Regions from separate parts of the Homo sapiens genome. Here region 2 is linked to region 1. The links come from fine-mapping of genetic effects on gene expression. A gene starts in region 1. The other region holds a variant in brackets. All regions are shown on one strand. Distances are from middle to middle.

Region 1 (8,344 bases):
ACCAACTCTCCAGCCTGCACAACCCCTGAAAAAAAAAATGAAAAAAAAAAATGCTCTTCAAGACTCCATACTTTTCCATATTCTGATCCTGCACTTTCTACAGGTTAGACCTATGTCTCCTCATCCCATCCTTAAGCTGAGTTCAGAATGTCAGCTATTTTAAAGATTAACATTTATTTGAAAATTTCACTTGCGGTACTGTTCGCACCCTAATTTATTGTGTTTTTTACTTTTTCGTTTTATTTCTGGATTGAAAACTTCACATTTTATAACTTTAGTTTGTTTTTTTTACTTTTAAAGATATTCAGATAGAAAAATGTAGAATCAGTTGAGTTTATGAATCAAATCATCATTTAAAGAGAAAGAGAATGAGTTTTTATATAGGGAAAGGTGTTCAAACATCATTAAGGCTACCAGGGTCATGAAAGAAGAATAAGCTTTTACACAGTTATTGTGTTGACATACATGACTTTATATTCCACCTTACTAAAATTCTCTCATTTAAACAGCAGTCCCTCTGGAGTGTTCAAAGCAAGATGAAATCTAAGATATACAACCTCATCTGATATTCACTCAATTGCAGCCTTTCTAATTTTCACTCCCTTCCGTGCGAATGCTCCTGTGCACTATTTATGCAATTCAGATAAATTATTTCTCAGAACTCGGAGCCAACAAACAGGTGATAGGCCATCTAAGGTCTGAGGAGAAAGAAGAGTAGGAACAGATTGAGGTACTCACCTTTTATGCAAGCCCAAACTCCAGAATTTACCAGTTGGCTAACCATTCTATAGTGTGTGTTTCTTTTCCGTATCTAAAAGTATTTATAATTGGTTGTTGCTAAGAGAATGTCACAGCATATTCAAACTGCCAGGATACTTAATACTTATTGTATATGTTCAATGTGAGATTTCTAACTCTGTTACTTTTAACAGTATTTTTTGTTTCAATTTTTAACACAGCACACATTCCTCAGGCAGGATTGCAAACATGCCAAGTTTGCAGTTTGAAAACAAAGATCGTTTTGAACTATCCAAGTACAAAAGAAATTTTTTTTTTCAGTTAAATTTTTTTGGGGAGGACTTTACTTTAGAAGGAGGCAAAATGACTGAATTCCAGTTAATCTAGCATTCCCAAAGAAGGTAGTCCCCACTGACATACTTCCAGTTAGGCTAACTTCAGCCTCAAAAGAAAATTTCTAAGATTGTTTTCATGATCTCAAGATTGGGATTTTAGAAAGAAGCTTTCAAATTTAAACTAAACATTGCAGAAGTTGCAATTATTGTTGCATATATAAGAGAATCCAGAATTATACCTGACCTGTCAACAAGTAAAAAGGGAGCCATCCTTGCAAATGTGGAAAAGAAAATTGTTAGGTAAAATGTTAGATAAGAAAGAGCTGTATATGAGCAGACTGGACTCGTCAGCCAGGGCGTGTTGCAGTTTGCAAAGCAGGGAGTATCTAGCTCCAGCCATTTTTTGAGAGGTACCTCCTGGACTACTTTTGCTCCAAAAGTAACATTCAAGCCCCACTTAAGAACTCAAAAGTCGTCTCATCCTCCACTCCCCGGAACAGTTCAAGAGCCATTTCTTCTTAGAACTAGTCATCAATTGTGACTGTGGCTGAAAGAGTCCATGGGCAGGATGGTTCTGGTTAGGTGTTCATTTTGAATTCCCCTCTCAGTATTCTGGCATCAGAGCGTCGCCTGAGCCTTGCGGGGATCCCTGTACCCAATGGCCAGGAGCTCTTCATCAGCTAGAAGTTTAGTGCCGGGAAAAGGGCTGGGCTCACTTGTTTAAGAACCAGTCTTTGAGACTGATGACTTTGCAAGATGGACTGGCTAATGACCCCTGGCTGCTGCGCTGCTGTGGACTTGGTTTCTCCTCTAGCTTGTCCGCTCCCCTCCCCTTCCCAAATTCCCCTTGGTCAGGTAAGATTTCCTTTACACTTTACCCACACTTTCCTGTCTTACTTATCCGTGGCCACAAAGGAAAGAGTCCAATCATTCGATCTCTTTATTTATTTTTGAGAAAAGAGAAAAAAAGAACAAAACAAAAATAAGATTTATCTTTAAAAAAATAGCTGAAGTGGAAAAGGTTTCGAGATTTCTGCAGCCACGTTCTAAATAAGAATTGCAGAATACTGTAAATTCAGATTTACAAAAAGAACACTTGGTGGAGAGTGGGGCAGAATTTCTGCCGCATTCTCTAAGCGCTTCCAAGAGATAAAATCCTGTAGCGGAAGATGCAAACGCAAGGGTGCAGGGGTGACTGTTTTGAGAACTGCTAGAGTGCTACTGAAATTAAGTGGAGGTCAAGTCGAATCTGATTTTCAGACAATTTTACAGTAAGGCAGCGGCTCACTAAACAGGCCAGTTGACAAGCTGTAGTCACTTTCTGAGTATTTCTGTAAAAATGGTAAGGGATCAACTCTGCAATTTGTCCCTCCCATGAAAGCACAGTCTTGTTTACACCTCGCTGGAGAAATAACACTCGCCCTCACTTCTCCCAAAAAGCTGAACCCTTCAGTCGGCCCAAGCAGCTCCACACCCTGAGGTTTCCAAGACCAAAGCTGCGAGTCTCAGCAGGGAACAGCCACGTGGCCTGCCTGCGCCTCGCCTGGGCTCTTGCCTTCAGCTTGAGATATCTGCAGCCGCGAACCTTGCTCCAGCCCAGAAAGGGGCGCTTTGCTCAATTAATTGTTCCCGCCGGCGAGTCCGTACTGAGAAGCCCATGAGCGGACCTTATGTGCAGGGTACTCCAGCGCGGTGCACAAAACTCGTCGCCCCCAAACGCTGCCCCCACCCCAACACTGTGTACTGACTCCAGCTTTTTACTTTGCCATGTAAGGGATGGACCTGAAACGGTTATTTTACCTCAATTCATTTCAAAAAGGAAACAAGTATGGCATTGCAAAAGATGGGCTTCTTATCCAAGGCGACTTCCTTTCTGGTTCACCAACTTTGCTGCTTCCAGTTTGCCAGGATCTACATTAACACCCTCTTTGGGGCTCTTCGTTTTAACTTACAGACAGAAATGCTTAAAATGTTAGCGTATCCAAGCATTTGGAATTGGGGCTCACGAAGCCTAATTGTCCACTGGATGCCCTAGATAGTGGGGGCTGGGGCGGGGGGGGTCTCAGAGCGGGCAGCCCCTATGTCTAGGCGCTATCAAATTCCCACTTCACTCTCTTACAAGCTGGCCTTTCAAGGTCACAATGCGGAGCCTAATTTGGGGGTGGGGATGAAATGGCCACAGGGTCTCTCCCTTGGGTTGGCATTGCCAGCTGTTAGGGCCGCAGCAAAGGCGCTGCGCTGCCCCCCTCTGGCTCTGCTGCCTTTCCCATGGACTGGGTTTCCTTCCACCGAAGAGTGAACTTCTGCCTCTTTCGAGCACCTTCCGAGGCGTAGTCCTTTGGATGTTGGGGAGCGTCAGACTGGGTCGTTGTAGAGGGGAAAGGAGGGCCCAGAAGGGCGAGAGAGCAGGCCGGGACGCAAATCCTCAGCCCCCGCGGCGCGGCCACGTCTTCAGAAACGCCCAGGACCTCCGGGCTGGGCCGCCGCGGTTTGGCCTTTGGAACTCCAAGGGGTTCGTCTACCTGACCATTGGGTGGGCTCCGCGGTTGACACTTTTCTTGGCATGCCCCCCCACCCCGCGCCACACCACCCCCCCAGCCCCAGCAATCCCAAATCGGCCCCACGGACCTAGAGGGCTCTTGGGCGAGATGAGACATCACCCACTGTGTAGAAGCTGTTGCCATTGCTGCTGTCACAGCCACTCCGGATGGGGCTGCCACCGCGGCCAGGACAGTCTCCTCCGACCGCTTCCTGGGCTGCGCTAGGGTTCGGGGGCGCTGCCCGCACGCTCCGGCGGGGAAGGAAATCGCCCCGCGCCCGCCGGAGGAAGGCGACGGGGAGGGAAGGGGGAGGGCGGCTAGGAGGCGGGTGGAGGGGCCGGCCGCCCGGGCCAGGTCGTTTTTGAATGGTTTGGGAGGACGAATTGTTAGACCCCGAGGAAGGGAGGTGGGACGGGGGAGGGGGACTGGAAAGCGGAAACTTTCCTATAAAACTTCGAAAAGTCCCTCCTCCTCACGTCAGGCCAATGACACTGCTGCCCCCAAACTTTCCGCCTGCACGGAGGTATAAGAGCCTCCAAGTCTGCAGCTCTCGCCCAACTCCCAGACACCTCGCGGGCTCTGCAGCACCGGCACCGTTTCCAGGAGGCCTGGCGGGGTGTGCGTCCAGCCGTTGGGCGCTTTCTTTTTGGACCTCGGGGCCATCCACACCGTCCCCTCCCCCTCCCGCCTCCCTCCCCGCCTCCCCCGCGCGCCCTCCCCGCGGAGGTCCCTCCCGTCCGTCCTCCTGCTCTCTCCTCCGCGGGCCGCATCGCCCGGGCCGGCGCCGCGCGCGGGGGAAGCTGGCGGGCTGAGGCGCCCCGCTCTTCTCCTCTGCCCCGGGCCCGCGAGGCCACGCGTCGCCGCTCGAGAGATGATGCAGGACGTGTCCAGCTCGCCAGTCTCGCCGGCCGACGACAGCCTGAGCAACAGCGAGGAAGAGCCAGACCGGCAGCAGCCGCCGAGCGGCAAGCGCGGGGGACGCAAGCGGCGCAGCAGCAGGCGCAGCGCGGGCGGCGGCGCGGGGCCCGGCGGAGCCGCGGGTGGGGGCGTCGGAGGCGGCGACGAGCCGGGCAGCCCGGCCCAGGGCAAGCGCGGCAAGAAGTCTGCGGGCTGTGGCGGCGGCGGCGGCGCGGGCGGCGGCGGCGGCAGCAGCAGCGGCGGCGGGAGTCCGCAGTCTTACGAGGAGCTGCAGACGCAGCGGGTCATGGCCAACGTGCGGGAGCGCCAGCGCACCCAGTCGCTGAACGAGGCGTTCGCCGCGCTGCGGAAGATCATCCCCACGCTGCCCTCGGACAAGCTGAGCAAGATTCAGACCCTCAAGCTGGCGGCCAGGTACATCGACTTCCTCTACCAGGTCCTCCAGAGCGACGAGCTGGACTCCAAGATGGCAAGCTGCAGCTATGTGGCTCACGAGCGGCTCAGCTACGCCTTCTCGGTCTGGAGGATGGAGGGGGCCTGGTCCATGTCCGCGTCCCACTAGCAGGCGGAGCCCCCCACCCCCTCAGCAGGGCCGGAGACCTAGGTAAGGACCGCGCCGCTGCACCCCTTCGCCTCTCAGGTGGCAGACGGCAGGCCGGCCAGGCCGCGGTTCCCAGTCCACCTCGATTTCCTCCCCTCTCCCACTCTCCGCTCAGCCTTCCCACCTCACTTGGCACCGTTGCCTCGCGCCCCCAGCGTCCCCGGAAGGCCGGTCTGACCCCGCTAGGGAGAGCAGTCTCCAGGGGGATGCGCCCTGGTGAGGGGTGTGTGTGCGCGTGAGTGTGCGTGACAGGAGGGGAGACAGAGACACCCAGGGTCACGGGTAAGGACCGTTTTGTCAGCGCCACCCTTTCTTTCGGCTTTCAATTTTTGTTCTCCTTAAAACAAATGTTTTAAAACAAATTCCACCTCCTCCTCCTTTCCACCCACCCACTTCCTCTTGCCCTTGGGCTGAAATCCTTCCAGGTTGTTCAGCTTAATTTCTCAGTGGTGGTGATAAGAACAGTGCTCACTAGTCTTAGAAAACAGCCGCAGAGACCTAAACAATAACCGACTCCCCCCCCCCCCTCTGGGTTTTTGCAGATGTCATTGTTTCCAGAGAAGGAGAAAATGGACAGTCTAGAGACTCTGGAGCTGGATAACTAAAAATAAAAATATATGCCAAAGATTTTCTTGGAAATTAGAAGAGCAAAATCCAAATTCAAAGAAACAGGGCGTGGGGCGCACTTTTAAAAGAGAAAGCGAGACAGGCCCGTGGACAGTGATTCCCAGACGGGCAGCGGCACCATCCTCACACCTCTGCATTCTGATAGAAGTCTGAACAGTTGTTTGTGTTTTTTTTTTTTTTTTTTTTGACGAAGAATGTTTTTATTTTTATTTTTTTCATGCATGCATTCTCAAGAGGTCGTGCCAATCAGCCACTGAAAGGAAAGGCATCACTATGGACTTTCTCTATTTTAAAATGGTAACAATCAGAGGAACTATAAGAACACCTTTAGAAATAAAAATACTGGGATCAAACTGGCCTGCAAAACCATAGTCAGTTAATTCTTTTTTTCATCCTTCCTCTGAGGGGAAAAACAAAAAAAAACTTAAAATACAAAAAACAACATTCTATTTATTTATTGAGGACCCATGGTAAAATGCAAATAGATCCGGTGTCTAAATGCATTCATATTTTTATGATTGTTTTGTAAATATCTTTGTATATTTTTCTGCAATAAATAAATATAAAAAATTTAGAGAACCTTAGAGTTTGGTCTATATTTTTAAAACTAAAGATTAAGTTGGTGGTAAATACCTGCTTGTTTAATTCTAGAGGCACCCAGGAGGGAGGGGGCACTAATATAAACAAAGCAATGAAAAACTCAAATAAAGCAGCTACTGACAGGCACAAGCATGTTATTTTAAAAGACAGCTTTATTATTATTCCAGTTTGGTATTCAGAGGGCTTAGTAGCATCTCTTCATCTCTTACTGTCTCCAAACAGCAAAAACTTAACAAATTTGCTATTCACCTCCTTTTTATTTTGAGGTGATAGTTGTTAAAACAGTTAAATGCAAATAAGGAGTATAAAACCTGCACTATTCTCTTATTATGTACTTTTTGTCATGCTCTTCACTCTTTGTGAAGATTCCTAAATAACAGGTTCTTTTCAGTGAAAACATATATAGTGTTATGAAAATTATCTATACACATATAGAAATGACCAGAAATGCATAGAAAATAAAGTGTAAATCAGCAGAAAAGAGAAAATTCCATTTGTAATTTGCTTAACTCTTCTCTCATGAATGAATATGACGTTTAGTGTCATGTTTGCTAAAAAGAAAAGTTAATATATCGCTATATTGACGCTATTTGGGAAGCATCATTCTTTTTTTATGTGTAAAGAATATAAGGCTGTGGAATAATATACAAAAATGAAGATCCTGAACTTTCAGTATCCTTGGTAACTGGATATAATCACAGTTGGAATAATCACAGTTTTAAATACTACAGCTATGCAGTTACTAGTCAGTTCATTAGCGTTATATTTTATCCAGAATTACACAGAATTTTTCCCTGGTGAGATCATACATACACACACACACAATCTGAAGTTAAGTAAAACAATAATGGGCAAACGGGGGTGTTTGATTTTTTATTTCATTCTGATTATTTGTGGGCCAGGAACATACTGGCTTTTATAATTAACATTATTAGAAATAGTGATTTTGTATCAGTTCTTAGCTTTTACATCCGATTTACTGCATCCAAGTGTAACTGGGGAAGCTTTCAAACTGGAAAATCATTTTGGTGCCTGTTTCAAACAATGACTAATAAGTGTATGTATCCAAACAGATCGTTTTTGCTTAGCTCAGGTCAAAGTTATTTTATTGCCTGAAGGTTTTTGTTTTCTTCTTCACACAGCACCATAGAATGCTGACATAAGAATATTATGAATTTATTGTTAATATTTCAGACTATATTTTACAATAAGGAGTCTGCAGCATTGACTTGTATTAAAAGGTTAGTGAAAGCTTGGAGAAGTATTATTATTTTTTTATTTTGATAGTCCTTTAGCAAATAACAGAAAGGGAAGGCGATTATGTGTTGGTGTATTTGTTGGGGGTGTGTGTGTGTTGTGTGTAAGGCAGGTTAGAAATGTAAGGAGGGTGCCCTAGGAGGATGAGGGAAAGCATTAGGTTGGTAATTCTTTTTTGTATGTATCATCCAACCACCTCCATTTTCTAAATTATTCATGGGGAGTCTCCTTGTTCACTAGCTTGGTCTGACTATTTGATATTTCAGATTTCTTAAGGTACACCAGGATGGAGCTGGCCATGACTGCTGAGAAGGTAATTGTTATCTTAACTCTGGATATAAGAACTAGATGTGTCAAAGAAAGGTAGCTCTCCATTTGCCTTTCTTTTATTTCTTTCTTTTTTTAATGTGTTTTGCTTTTTCTACTTTTTTCATAAGGGGAAACACTTTGGAGAAAAGCAAATGCCATATTTATAGTAATATTAAATACTAATCTGAAGGTAATGTTTCCCCCCAGATTTTCAGAGAAATAAATGAATGAAAAAGGTGGTAATTTTATTTTGAATGAGGCGACTGCACAATGAAAAATATTAACTACTGGAATGCAGTTTCCAGCTTGCAGATTCTAATCCCTACCCCTGTATACACAAGACATAAATCGTGAAATTCTTTTTTAGAATAGAAATGAAGCCACCTGTTTCTTTTCCTCCACCATTATATCTTCTTTTG
Region 2 (8,344 bases), 350 kb before region 1:
TGCATTTAGGTCTGTGATTCATTTTTAATTTTTTTATTCCACTGTAAGATCTATGTCTAGATTTTATTTGAACATGTGGTTGTTGAGTTGTTCCAGCACCATTTGTTGAAAAGGCATGTTTTCTCCATTGTATTGCCTTTGTTCCTTTAACAAAGATTAGTTGATGATATTTATTGGGTCTATTTCTGGGCTATTTTTTCAATTGACCTATTTGTTTATTCTTTCAACAATACCACAGTCTCAATGACTGTAGCTTTATGATAAGCATTGAAGTCATGTAGTGTCAGTCCTCCAACTTTGTCCTTCACCTTCAATATTGTGTTGACTATTCTGGGTGTTTCTCCTCCCCATCTAAATGCTAGAATCTGTTTGTCAATATCTGCAAAATAACTGTCTGGGATTTTGACTAGGATTGCATTGAATCTGTAGATCAAGTTAGAAAGAACTTACAACTTGGTAATATTGGGTCTTCCTTTTCATCAAAGTATTTCTATTTATTTAGTTCTTCCTTGATTTCATTCAGATTTTTTGTCGTCTTCCTCATATAGATCTTGAACATATTTTGTTAGATTTGTTTCTGTTTAATCTTTGGGGTGCTAATGTAAATGGTAACGTGTCTTAATTTCAACTTCCGATTGGTCATTGCTGGTATATAGGGCAATAATTGACTTTTGTGTATTAACCTTGTTTCCTACAACCTTGCTATAATTGCTCATTAGTTCCTGAAGTTATTTTTGTCAATTCTTTCAGATTTTCTACATAGGCAACCATGTCATTTGTGAAGAAACTAAGTTTTATTTCTTCTTTCCCAATCTTTACAGTTTTTACTTTATTTTCTTGTCTCACTATATTAAGTAGGACATCCATTACAATGTGGAAAAGCTGTGGTAGGAAGAGACATCCTTGCCTTGTTCCTAATCTTGGTGAGAAAGATTCTATTTTGTCATCATTAAGTATAATGTAAGCTGTAATTTTTATGTAGATATTTTCATTTACCTCTATTTCTATTTCATCATGAATGGACATTAAACTTTATCAGATGCTTTTTCTGCATCTATTTGTATAATTATGTGATTTTTCTTCTTTTGCCTTTTGATGAAATAGATTATATTAATTGATTTTTGAATGCTGACCCAGCCGTGCATACCTGGGGTATATCCCCACTTGTTCATGGTGTGCAATACTTTATTACATTGTTGGATGCAATTACTAGGATGTTGAGGATTTTAGAATCAATATTTGTTAGATATTTGTCTGTAGTTTCCTTGTAATGTCTTCTGTTTTGGCATTAGGGTAATGCTGGCCTCAAAGTATGAGTTAGGAAGCATTTCTTATGCTTCTGTCTTCTGGAAGAGATTAGAGAATTTGTAAAATTTTTTTCTTAAAAGTTTGGTAGAATTCTCCAGTGAACTCATCTGGTACTGGTGCTTTCTACAGAATATTATTTATTTATTCAATTTATATAATATAGGCCTATTCAGATTATCTAGTTCTTCTACTGTGAGTTTTGGCTAATTGTGTTTTTCAATAAATTGGTCAATTTCGTCTATGTTATCAAATTTGAGGGAATAGAGTTGCTCATAGTATCATCTTTTGAATGAACATGGAATTTGAAGTGATCGCTCTTCTTTCGTGCCTAATACTAGTAATTTGTGTCTCCTCTCTTCTTAGCCTTGCTTAGTGATTTAATTAAACTTTTTTTTAAAAACCTGCATTTGGTTTTATTGATTTTTGGTTTTTAATTTCATAATATCAGCTCTAATCCATCATATCTAATTTAATTAATCAATTTCAATGTAAAAACTTTACAGCAGTTTTAAGTTCATAGAAAAATTGAAAGGAAGGTAAAAAGATTTTCCATTTGCCCTCCTGGCCCCAGGCATGCATAGCCTCTCCCAATATCAAATCCCCAACCAGAATACTACATTTGTTACAATTCATGAACCTGTATTAACACATTGTAATCACCCAAGATATTTTTATAGATGGAAATTTTTTAAAAAAATATAGCTCTGATAATGATTAACACTGAATGAAATCACATCGATTTTATCTGGTTTTTGTTGTTTTTAAGTTTTTCTCTATCAAAACTATACCTGATTATTCTAAAATTCAAATTGTACAAAAAGTGTAAGGTGAACATTACAACTTAAACTATTCTCACTTTCCAACTTCCCAGTCCAGAAATAACCACAATTAATATTTTGTAGGTATCCATTAATATTGTAAGCATAAACATATGTACATGAATTTCTTACAAATAGGATTCTGCTATCTATATAAATCTGTAACTTGAAAATCTACTTAATCTCTATCATCAGAAAATCTTTACTGGAGTAACATCATTGTTCATGTCAATAGAATGCATAACAAACTTTAATTTAGCTGATGCTCAGTTCCCCACAGCTAAATTTTAGCTACTAAAGATACTTCAGAAGAACCTAGTATTGAGGATAGTAGGTGAGCCAATTTGAAACTTTAATTTAGTTGGTCACGCCTAGAATATTGGAAAATTTGTTGACTGGCTTTGGAATGATGATGTTAAATCAGATCACTGAATTATCACAAATGCAAAATCTCAAACTATTCTTCCCCAAATCTAAAATGATGTATTTTACGTTAAATCTAAGTTCCCTTTTGAAAAATTCCCTCTGGTTTTTCAGACTACCTTAACTTCACCATTAGAATCTGAGATTCAGTCAATGGTTTAGGACAGTCAGAGACAGAGCTCGCAAGAAAATAGGACACTGTGTCGTTGATGAAGGAAGATCCAGTAAAGAACACCATTAACTTTTAGAGCTGTGAAATAATATTTGAGGGTCTATTTATATGTCACCAAAGAAATGGAGGTAAAAGATCAGATTAGTACATTTAGAAATTAGTCTGTGGGCAAACTTATGCACTCTTTTCATTTTTATTTTGAGAGGAATGTGCCTAGGGAAAGAAACACCGGCATCTACATAATGGATGGCACCGTGGAAATGCTGGGCTTCTTTCTGGTGATTATTTAACTTTGAAGAGCAGTGGAGGAACTGTGAAATGAGTTTCATGGCTAGGAGCTCGCCACTCTCATTTAAAAGGCCACTCCATATTTTTTTCAAATATAACTAAACTATTATCTTTTGTGAATAGATCCTTTCACATGATTCAGCCAAAAAATGGATCAAGAGGTTAAACAGTAAAATTAAGGAAAAGCATATTTTCTCATCATATACATGTCCTCAGACTGCCCAAATTCATTTGGAAGGTTTTTAGCATTTGCAAAAATGTACTCTAGGCCATTGTTTTTAAAAGATAGAAACATTCCAGAAATCCCCTGGTAGAGATCATGTTATTAACCAATTGGCGAAATGTTTACAAGAGACGTGGGATTATTTGTATAAAAACTTACAGCCCAAAAATTTATGGCAGTAAT[A/G]TAAACTCATGAACGTCCAGTGCTGCTTGGGGGAATTCTCTGCAGTAGCTAGATGACTGATGATGTGGCAGAGTGTGATAACAAGTACAGCTGTTTCTATAAAAATGTGATCATAACAAGCTAAAGAATAAATCCTCCATAAGAAATCTCTTAAAGTGACAATCTAGTTTACTTGTTTTACTGTAATAGAATTCTATCATCTACTCTTTCCACCCAATGTACAAATTAAGTTTATAATATTTCTTATTCTGGTTCTTCAAATGCCATAAACAAGATAATTTTTCAAGTGTAATATTTTAAAGTAAACCATTTTACAAAGAAATAACAAACGAAATACAACTGTCACAAGTCACAACTCACTCAAGGAAAATATTTTCAGACACTATTACATCATCTTTAGTGATGGAAGTGTCCATGTTTCTTGGGTTTATCTTAAGGTTTGATGATTCCACATCAATTTTGGGAATCCCAGGATATGAAATGTTTTGAACGTTTAAAATTTATGGGTAAAAATTATCTTCATGCTGTGAAACAACCTATAAACAGAATACTAGAGAATATTTTATATATATATGAATTCTAGCTTTTGCTGACACACTTAGACTGGCCATAAGTATGCCCCATACTTAAGCATGCTCCGGAAAATTTGAGTTCTAGTATATGACTTCCCATAGTAAGCAGTGAAAATTCCATCTCTTCAAGTATACTCAAGTTAAAATTAACACATAAATTTAGTTTAATCCTAAAAGAGACTTCTACTAATATTTTCTTTATGAGGGTCAAAATAGGTTTGGCTAGTGTGAGAATTAAACGGCTAATTATTAATTTTATCTGTTATGACACAATAATTTTTGGGACTCAGACAAAGTAATGCAATATTGCCTAATCCATGGGAAGAAATGATAGAGGTTCTGTCAGATGATGCTGGAGTACATAGTGGGGGTGCTAACTTCCAAAGAGAAAGGGTGGTTTTTGATGCTTACTTTAGCCACAGATTTGCCAGTAGGAGCAGTATCAGAGTGGTTGTAACCCTCTGGTTAAAAAAAGGCCCATCACCTACATATCCTGTACTAGTTATAAATGATCTTCATATTGTATAAAATATACTCCTTTACTTCCAAAAATGTTTTAAAAAGTATATACACAACTATTTGTTAACACTAAATTTTAATTTTACATCATTTCCCAGCACCATAATAAATATAAAGGCTATCCTATTCAAATAATTGAATTTTATTATAGCACACATTAGTTTGACACCTGCATGTGCGTGCAGATATTTTTTAACTCAACACATATGTAATAAGCTGGGTCACCATACATCCCAGTTTGACCAGGTCTTGGTTTTTAAATGTTGTGCCAACATAATTATTAAGAGTATCCCTTTTACTCTCAAAAAAACTTTGGATGATAAATCATGTGGCCTCCCTAGTATAAATACATACTTGGATATTTTTGGTTCAATTATATTTACCTGGATTCTCATTTCGGAACTCAAGCACCTTGCTTGTAAGGATGAGGTCTTTGTTATATACATAAAGCAATATAATTATGTAATTTATATTGAAACTTGAAATAACTTGAAAACAATAGACTCCTGTAAGCCATGATGGCACACAGTATTCATTCCATGTAAATTATGATACTATTACTGCTGCTAGTAAAAAAGACAACTGAAAATATTATATTAAATTAGATAATAGTGAAATCTCAGTTACAGGGTGTACAAGCTGCCAGATTATCACACAGGTATGCACACACATAGTTATGAGACTAGAAACTAATCCTTTCCCCAAGCATCAACCCCAACAAGGTTAACTTAGGTAGAGAGACTTTAAGAAGGTCCATTGTGATGGATTGTACAGATTCAGGAAATTGGACCAATGGACCTCAAAAATCACGAGGTTCCTCTATTACTCATAGGAAAAGAGAATTTGGGGATTTCTCATTTTCCTGAAGCACTACAGTTTCTGAACACAATGATTGTGCACACTGCTCATATATAGTTTGTGCTCAATATGTGACGAATGAGTACATGAATGAGTTTGCTGAGTAAAGATAGTATTTATATCCTATACCTCCCCTTGAATCATAATTACTTCCAACAAAAATAGTATAAACGTTAGACTGATTCCATATTTCTAGTTGTAATATGAATTAAATAAACTTCATCTTTTGAATTAACACTGTATATTAACCTTAAAATTATCATACTTAGAATGCTTGAGAATGAGTTACAGAATACAGGAAAAACATGAGAAGATAGATTACCATAATCAAATGCTTAGAGTAAAATACCATCTTAAGTACAAATAGCTAAAATTAAAATTAAAGAAAATACATATAATGAATATTCTATTTTTGCCGATGTAATATTATTCCCTTTAAATTAATACAGTATTTTTTACCCTTAATTTTCTGTAAGTAGTCTTCTAGCATCAGTTTAAAAGTTGACCTACTTTAGTAGTGGCTGTGTTAGTATGAGTTGCATGTCAAGTCATTTAATCTGCCTTCAATATATAAAATAACTTAATTTACCATAAGAATTGAAACCAAGAAGCTAGTACTAATATATACATTATATATAATATATATATTTATGTGTGTGTATATATATGGCAAATAACAAATTACAGTCATATTAATGCAAACTTAAAACCACATCAATATTTCATTATATTGTATTAATATCAGCAAATGTAGCATCATACCTTACAGTCAAATTTTACAAATAGGCTAACTATATAGGGTATGAGTTCCCTCCTATATTTTATATTTGAGGGGGAAGAGAAACAATTGTTCCCATGCTCTCTGGCTCTTTCTCTTTGTGGATTAGGGATATTCTGTATCTTAAATAAATGACCATGTTTGAATAAAAGTAGGCTGCTTCTTTCCAATAAAGTGAGTGTCATTATGGGATAGGAGATTTAGACTGCTTTTTGGTTTATGAAGTTTGGCTTAAGACTTTTCACCTTTGCTTTACTTATTTTTTTTTTTATTATACTTTAAGTTTTAGGGTACATGTGCACATTGTGCAGGTTATTATGTTTTCATTTGTAGTGTTGGGCTTTTTCATGCTTAATTTTTCTGCATTTACAAGCTGAAAGGCTCAATTCATAATGAAATATTTGTAAGCAATATGCACAGTTTCAAAGGCTTTACTAGGTGGCTGCCAAGGAAGCATGTAAAATGGTCAAAGAAAATAAGCCTTTTGGAGAATATTTGTTGGTATGGAAGTAGAGGTTAATGAGGAAATGTGTTTCTATAATAATAATATTAATGCTTTTCATTTATATAGCTGCTTTCCTTAGAATGCTTGAACACTTCACCTCTGCCTTCATTTTCTGATACTTGTCATACATTTTGAATGGTTTTTACAAAGCCATGCTAGGTAAAAGAGAAATGCTACAAATTTATTGCTTCTCAGACATCAAAAAGAGCAATCAGCCTCAGGGTCTAGGTAGCTATTAGGTATGACATATAAATTAGTATGTGCATTCAGACTTTTTCCACTTACAGACAGAACCCTTGGACTTCTGCTCAAACTATAAATCCTAGTTTAGGTATGATCATGTTGGGTGAGTTAGGATAGGAGGCCTCCCAAAAAGGCTGATGCCTGAAAAGCAGAGAGATACAGGCTTTGTTACATTGTCCAAGATTCACCAGTGGGAGCCCCAGTTTCCTTATCTATGTTTTTGGTAACCTTTCTTTGTTCTCAACCCCAAATAGAGAAGTCTTTTTATAATGTTTCACATATGTGTGCATCAAGGCTACATAAATAGTTTCAAGAAACAGGACTTACACCTCAGCCAAATTCCCCAGAAACCATGAGCCCATAAAGAGCAATCGTTTGCAGCCAAAAGAAAATCCACCCAGCCTCTAAATTAACTATTATTCAGTTATCCATTTTTCTTTTTGTGCCACAGAATATTTCATGAAATAAAATTTATATATTTTTTCCACTTACTACTTAGAAAAACCTGATCAAAACCTTGAAAATGAAGGGAACCCATTTAAGTAGATATTTTTTAAAAGATGCTTTGTAAAATCACAAAAAAATCATTAAAAAACATTCATAATGCTTCCCGAGACTTCTGAGTAAGGCTCTTGCAAAGTCATCACCTAAAATAGAAAAGGTTACAGTAATTTCACAGGAGCACACTGTGAAATGATGATAAGACGAGAGGGGAAACAGGCATCACATTCCCCAAGCTTGCATCTCAACAGAGTCATGCTTTCTCTCAAGGGTACAGGAAAAAGCATCTGACCATTATCGTTCTTTCCAGAAACCTGTATTACATTATTCTGTGCTTTTTAAATAATTGAAATGAAAGATATTTTCTACCAAGGACAACTCTGCTTATAATTAACCCTAGGGGCTTATATTTTTCGACTCCATGGATAAAGTTATTACAATGTTGAAATATTGTGCCAAGTGATCACAGGAATATAAAAGCTGGAGGGAATTTCCACCTAGCCAATCTGAATGTAAGTCAGATTTGTTTCTCTTGGGGAAAAGAGATGCACTATTGCCATGACCCAAAATCTCCTACTTTAACTTTCTCTAGGTAACTCCATACATGATTCATGTGCGTAATATAGATAGACTGGGAATACAGGGCTGATGTTTATTAGCATTAGATCCATAAAAGGAAAAATGTACATTGGTTGTTTTTTCATATTCTCAACCACATTTCTAATTATTAAGTAGAAAATAAAATTTTTTTGATGTGACATTAGATTTATTTTGAAATTACTTCATCTTATGCTAATTTAGTTCCATAGATTCTGTCCTTATGATATCACCAGACTAAAACCAATTGAAATTTTGATTATAGTAATAAAATGGAAGCTTAAGTTTGAGGAATGTCTGAAAATACTGCTGGTGCAAACCATAGCTTATAAAATATCAGAAAGCCTTGGACAGAA

Alleles and levels. Alleles are on the strand shown, and positions count from the first base shown. SD is a standard deviation of normalised expression in the study named.
For the expression in ileum of the gene that starts at base 4,170 in region 1, A is the low allele of the variant in region 2 and G is the other (moderate effect, 0.47 SD a copy in GTEx).

What was found.
Region 2: its variant is fine-mapped to the expression of TWIST1 in ileum (GTEx, PIP 0.97).

What each region holds. Positions count from the first base shown.
Region 1 is chr7:19,113,462-19,121,805 of GRCh38, reverse strand. It overlaps TWIST1 (twist family bHLH transcription factor 1), which reads left to right and starts at 4,170. Exons shown (of 2, transcript NM_000474.4): 1 at 4,170-5,135; 2 at 5,675-6,338. The coding sequence starts at 4,485. The coding sequence ends at 5,093. RefSeq lists enhancers at 2,160-3,023, 4,097-4,880, 4,904-5,163.
Region 2 is chr7:19,465,319-19,473,662 of GRCh38, reverse strand. No RefSeq gene overlaps it. Among named protein-coding and RNA genes, the nearest start is that of MIR3146, 240 kb to the left of the region's middle. The variant A/G (reference allele first, on the strand shown) is at 3,416.